2 separate regions of the Homo sapiens genome follow, and region 2 is linked to region 1. The links come from fine-mapping of genetic effects on plasma protein levels. Region 1 holds a variant in brackets. A gene starts in the other region. All regions are shown on their reverse strands.

Region 1 (2,898 bases):
TTAGCTTGGTTACAGTTGGGTGAGGATGAAATGGGGCAGGGGGTCCCAGCAGAGGTCACTTATTGACTCACCAGTCTGGTGGGGGCATTCAACATGGCTGCTGTTTCCAAAAGAGAACTGAGAAATACAGGAATGGCAGATTAGCAAGCTCCAGGCAATACCCACTACACCACATCTTTTCTTACCCATGGTTGTACCTTGAAGCAGAGCTGGGGGTGCAGGTCCACCTTCTCCAAAACATACCACTGTGGGAGGAGAGGAGAGTTCATCAGGGAGAAAATTCCTGGGCCCCAGCCCTGCCCACCCTGGTCCTGGGGGAACCTGTCCTCACCCCATCTGACTCTCGAGCTGTGGCATTCGGGAGGTCTTTGCAAAGGGTATGCCAGTCGTGCCTCTGGCAGAGGGCAGCTTCCAGCTTCAGTGGGCAG[C/T]GGAGTGTCAGGGCCATGACCATCTGAGTGTGCTGGCTGTAGTCAGTGAAGTGCACTGACTTCCAGAAGTCCGAGCCATCTGGGCAGGTGGCAGGGTCAGTGGGTGAGGGTCAGCCCTGCTTCAGCCCCACCTTGCCACCCACATCCTGGGGGCAGCTGGAGATAATGTTTGTAAAAGTAACCAGCACTATTCCTGGCCAGAACAGGTACTAAATCAATGAGCATCCCTTTCATTATCTTTCTTTTCCTTTTCTTTTTTGAGATAGAATCTCACTCTGTCGCCCAGTCTGGAGTGCAGTGGTGCAATCTCAGCTCACTGCAACCTCTGTGTCCTGGGTTCAAGCGATTCTCATGCCTCAGTAGCTGGGATTACAGGTGTGTGCCACCAAGCCCAGCTAATTTTTGTATTTTTAGTAGAGATGGGTTTTCACCATATTGGCCAGGCTGGTCTCCTGACCTCGTGGACTCCTGACCTTGTGACCCACCCACCTTGGCCTCCCAAAGTGCTGGGATTACAAGTGTGAGCCACCATGCCCAGCCCCCTTTCATTACCTTTCTGTTTTTTGTTTTTTTTTTTGAGACGGAGTTGCACTCTGTCACCCAGGCTGGAGTGCAGTGGTGTGATTTCGGCTCACTGCAACCTCTGCCTCCCGAGCTCAAGTGATTCTCCTGTCTTGATCCCCTGAGTAGCTGGGACTACAGGCGCGCATCACCATGCCCGGCTAACTTTTTGTATTTTTAGTACAGACAGGGTTTCACCATGTTGGCCAGGCTGGTTTCAAACTCCTGACCTCAGGTGATCTGCCTACTTCAGCCTCCCAAAGTGCTGGAATTACAGGCGTGAGCCATTGCGCCCAACCTCATTATCTTTCTATCCAGGGGTCTCTCTCCTCTCCTTCCCAGGCCTCCATTCTGGCCAGGTCCTTGCTTCTCCCCAAACTCGAAATCTGCTTAGGGTCCTCTCAGAACCAGGAATGTCTTTCCCTCCTATCTCTCCTTTCTAAGTCTTGCCCTTTTTCTGACCCCAGCTCAGGTGCCACTTCCTCTAAGAGGCCTTCTCTGCTTATAATGGCCCTTCTTGGGCTTCTCCCTTTCCCAATTTCTTGCCCTACAGCCTAGTCCTTAACCATAACCCTGCCCTGTAAGTTCTGTAGGCTGCTTTATGTGAGTCACTTTTGTCTGAGTGTCCTGCCTCTCCTTGAGAACAACAACATGCATACAGCACTTCAGACATCACCAGCCACTTTCATATGTAATATTTAACTCAGGCTTCACAAACACTTTGAAGGCAGAGCAGGTATTGAGATTTTACAGATGAGGAAAGTGAGGCTCAGAGAAGAACAATTGACAGAGCTGTGATGGGAACTGGGTCTTCTGGCCCATCCTCTTAGGACACCATCTCCTAGGCCTCATATTTCTAAACTTCTCACAGTACTGCGGTGCTCAGCGATCTCTGATCTATTGGCAAGCGGACTGGTAGACTTGGCAGCCCTTTTCCCCCCACTGACTCCAGGGAAAGTACCTGCATGCCTTCTGGGGACTTCCCCCAGCACATGTGTGAAGTGCGGGGTGTGTGTGTGTGTGTGTGTACATGTGTGTGTAGGAGACAGAAAGAGAAAGGGGATGTGTGTGCACAAGGGTGCGTGTCAACAGCACTCACAGGCTTCTGGCCAGCTCTGGAAGGGACATTTTTTGCGCCTCACAGTGTCCTCTTGCAGGTAGGATGCCTGGAGAGACGGGAGCAGGTGGGGAGGGTCAGAGGAATGGCTTTTCCAATCTCACTCAGACCTAAAACTCATTCTGGCTTTACCTTACTGTGACGCAAGCTGCCTGAGCTGGCCAGGCACTGACCGAGCAGGAGGGGGCAATGTGGGGTGGGGGCAAGGGTGGAGAGGAACTCCAGAGCATAGGAGAGGGATAAGCAAGTGAGGGGCTAACTCCTCTTCCTCCTAAAGAGAACTATCCCCAGAAAGAAGGAAATCCTGAGGTCGCATTCCTCAGCTTTGGTCTTCTCTGGCCTCCACTCTCAGCCATCCCCAAGGCACCCAGTGCTCTGTGTTGGCTCCTGACTCTGGAATGCCCACATGCCCACCTGCTGTCCACCCTGGCAATTGCTCGTGGCTCTAGGTCTCTGCCATCATCCTCCCTTAGGTCTTCCAGGTGACAATTTCCCTTGCCTTTTCTGTCTAGTCCAAAGAAAACTTTCTGCTATGTTCCTTAGACTTGTAAAGAGAAAAGGAGGACTGCCACAGAGGCCTAGAGGGGACAAGACTTTTGGGGGCATATGGATCCTGCAGTGGCCATGCACACACTCCTTCCTCGACTCCTCAGAACACACAGCAATGACAGCTGCCTATTCTGGCTCTGTGGGCTGAGGCCAGGTCTGGGCCAGGGAAAGATGGGTTTGGATGAGGCTGAGGTTGGAATCACCCTAAGAAGGTCCAATGTTCAGCAGCACCCTTCCACCTCT
Region 2 (2,898 bases), not on the chromosome of region 1:
GAGTCTCTGGCCCTACCCTGTCCTCCTGGAGGCCCCTCTCCCCTCAGGGCCCCTCTCCGTGTACTCAGGATAGGACCTGAGGCAGCGAGGGCTGAGCCACACGGGCTTGGGGTGCAGTCGGGCTCACATGTGGTGGTAATCCACGTCTCCCCAGGGCCCTCCAAGAGCACAGAGCAGGGTCCGGAGGCCTCTAGGAGCCTCCCTTCCACTTCATCACCCAGCCCCACTTCTGCAGGAGCTCAGGTGACGGGCCCAGAATTTCCCCAGGGGACCCTGGCCACCTAGGACAGTGGGAGGCAGGGCACGGCCAGCCGCAAGCAGCAGCTCAGCCGTCCAGGTCAGGAGGGCCGGAGGGAGGGAGCTCAGGTGGCCACGCCCACTTGACAGGTGAGAACCACCAAGGCCCAGAGAGCTCTCCGGGCAGTCAGGGCCCCGCCAGGGGAGGGGCAGCCCCACGCCACAGCGGAATCCCCAGGTCCTCACCGGTATCTCCAGGGTGAGATGGAGCGCTGGTGGGTGTCTGCCTCCAACACCTCCTCCGGCCGCAGCACCGGGCACTGGGTCGTAGCTGAGGGCCTCTCGTGCCTCCCCCTGTGGCTTGCTGCCTCCAGGCTGGACACCAGGGCTACAGGCAAAGCCTGCCCCCACTTGGCACCTCGAGCCAGCAGGTGTGGGGGGGCCTGGCCGAGGGGCAGTTCCTCAGCCGAGTAGCAGTGTGGGGTACCGTGACTGTGGGGGTGCCCCCTGAGGGAGGGGTCATGGTGGGCCAGGCATGTGTGCAGCCAGGTCAGAAACAGGAGGCCGGGGAGGAGCTGGTGAAACAGGCAGGTGGGTGGTTAGGAGGTGCCCAGGGCAGGGGGCACCTCACTTCCACCTCAGCTTTCCTTGTTCCCAGCGGAAAGATGGAGTACAGCCCTCCCTCTATAGATGGGGAAACTGAAGCCCAGAGAGGCTAGCCCTTCAGCCCAAGACACCCAGCATGCCAGCGCTCCGAGGATCTGCAGCTGCCTCCCCTACCCCCAGACTGAGGGGTTTCCCAGACCCCATCCCAACACCCTCCTCCCAGGCTCAGAGAACCCCAGCCCTTCCATGCCAGGCTGCACATCCAAGCAGCATCCATCCGAGCGGCATGTGGAGAGGCTCACCGTCATGGTGGCGGCAGCGGGGCAGGCTGGGCTTGGAGCGGCCTGCACACCTGGCGGCAATCCCACAGGTGCACCTGGCCATGCACCTGGCAGCAGCCGCTCTTATACCTGAGGCCACACCTGGGGGAAATTCCGGCACCACTTCCTCCTCGGGAAGTGCCCAGCTGGGGCGCTTCTTCCTTCTCTGGTCCCCGCAGCCCCCGCCTGCTGTGCATCAGGACACAGACATGCAAGGAGGCCCCGGGAGGCGCTGTCCTGTTACCCCCCTCCCCCGAGAGAGACTCCGCCCAACCTGAGCACCTACACAGGGTGCTGCCTTGTCTGACATTCTCAAACTTTTTTTTTTTTTTTGAGACAGGGTCTTGCTGTCACCCGAGCTGGAGGGAAATGGTGCTGTCCCAGCTCACTGCAACCTCCACATCCCAGGTTCAAGCGATTCTCCTGCCTCAGGCTTCCGAGTAGCTGGGATTACAGGCACCCCCCACCATGCCTGGCTAATTTTTGTATTTTTAGTACAGACAGGGTTTTGCCATATCGGCCAGGCTGGTCTGAGGCTCCTGACCTCAAGTGATCTGCTCGCCTTGGCCTCCCAAAGTGCTGGGATTACAGGAGTGAGCCACTGCGCCCAGCCTTGAACCTCCTATAAGAGGGTTTCTGCTTGCGTATCCGTCAGCACCTTGCTGATTCAACTTGTAGGTTTTCATCTGGACCTGATGGTGGCGGGGCGCTTTTGCACCCTATACAGTTCTTCTCCGTCTGCTGCTGGTGGGTGCCAAGGGTGGTTCAGTGTTTTAGCTGAGATGGTCAAGATCAGGTGAGGCTCACGTGCCCCCTTCACCCAGGTGGGAGAGGTCCCGGAGATGGGGGAGGCAGGCACGTCTTCAGGTCTCTGTTGGGTTTCTGTGTTGTTTTTTTTTTTGTTGTTTTTTTGAGGCGGAGTCTGACTCTGTCGCCCAGGCGGGGAGTACAGTGGTGCGATCTCGGCTCACTACAAGCTCAGCTTCCTGGGTTCACGCCATTCTCCTGCCTCAGCCTGCCGGGTAGCTGGGACTACAGGCGCCCGCCACCACACCTGGCTAATTTTTTTGTATTTTTAGTAGAGACGGGGTTTCACCATGTTAGCCAGGATGGTCTCGATCTCCTGACCTCGTGATCTGCCCACCTCGGCCTCGCAAAGTGCTGGGATCACAGGCATGAGTCACTGCACCCGGCCTGGGCTTCTGTGGTTTTATTGAGAAAAAAGTTCAAGCTAAAAAGTCTGAGTTGGAGGTGTGAGGAGTGAGGTGTGAGGTGTGAATGAGGCATGAGGCGTGAGGCGTGAGGTGTGAGGTGTGACCAGCACACACAGGAAGCTTTATGTAAGCGGGGCCGGGAGCTGCCTTTGGCCTCCTTGATCGGTGAGGCTGGCTGGGGGTGGGGGCGCTGGAGGTGCCTTTGTTTCCCCGGAAAGGGACAGCTGCAGCCAGAACTTGGGAAGGTTTGAATGCCGGGGGTTTGACGTCATCCTGAGGAGGGTTGTCCTGGAGTCCCCAGGGCCCCTGGCCACATCAGAGGTGGGGGAATCTGTCCGCCCTGGTCCCCTCAGCTTCGGGGTGAGGGCGGGAGGGAGGGTGCTTGTGTGCCCCCAGCCTTTCCTCCCCTGCCGCGGTGCAGATGTGTTCCACGGAGGTGTCCTCTAAGCTGAAAACCTCAGTCTCTCTGAACACAAAAGCTCCCAAGTCGGGTGGGGCTGAGGCAGCACTGGGACCCCTGG

Which allele goes with the higher level. Alleles are on the strand shown, and positions count from the first base shown. The strength of an association depends on the size of the effect and on how common the allele is.
With allele T in place of C in region 1, the plasma level of the protein whose gene starts at base 1,221 in region 2 is higher (weak association).

Evidence for each region. PIP is the chance, under the fine-mapping model, that this variant and not a neighbour inherited with it causes the effect. The UK Biobank Pharma Proteomics Project read protein levels with antibody pairs (Olink). The fine-mapping took linkage between variants from a reference panel, not from the people measured, so its PIPs are less certain.
Region 2: it holds the start of IL17C, and the variant in region 1 is fine-mapped to the plasma level of the IL17C protein (UK Biobank, PIP 0.96).

Annotation. Positions count from the first base shown.
Region 1 is chr3:9,908,474-9,911,371 of GRCh38, reverse strand. It overlaps IL17RE (interleukin 17 receptor E), which reads right to left. Exons shown (of 16, transcript NM_153480.2): 8 at 2,089-2,155; 9 at 332-507; 10 at 198-245; 11 at 72-117. Among named protein-coding and RNA genes, the nearest start is that of IL17RE, 7.1 kb to the right of the region's middle. The variant C/T (reference allele first, on the strand shown) is at 429.
Region 2 is chr16:88,636,895-88,639,792 of GRCh38, reverse strand. IL17C (interleukin 17C) reads right to left here and starts at 1,221. Exons shown (of 3, transcript NM_013278.4): 1 at 1,146-1,221; 2 at 484-812. The coding sequence starts at 1,151. LOC124903755 (a long non-coding RNA gene) reads right to left here. Exons shown (of 2, transcript XR_007065181.1): 2 at 2,359-2,898.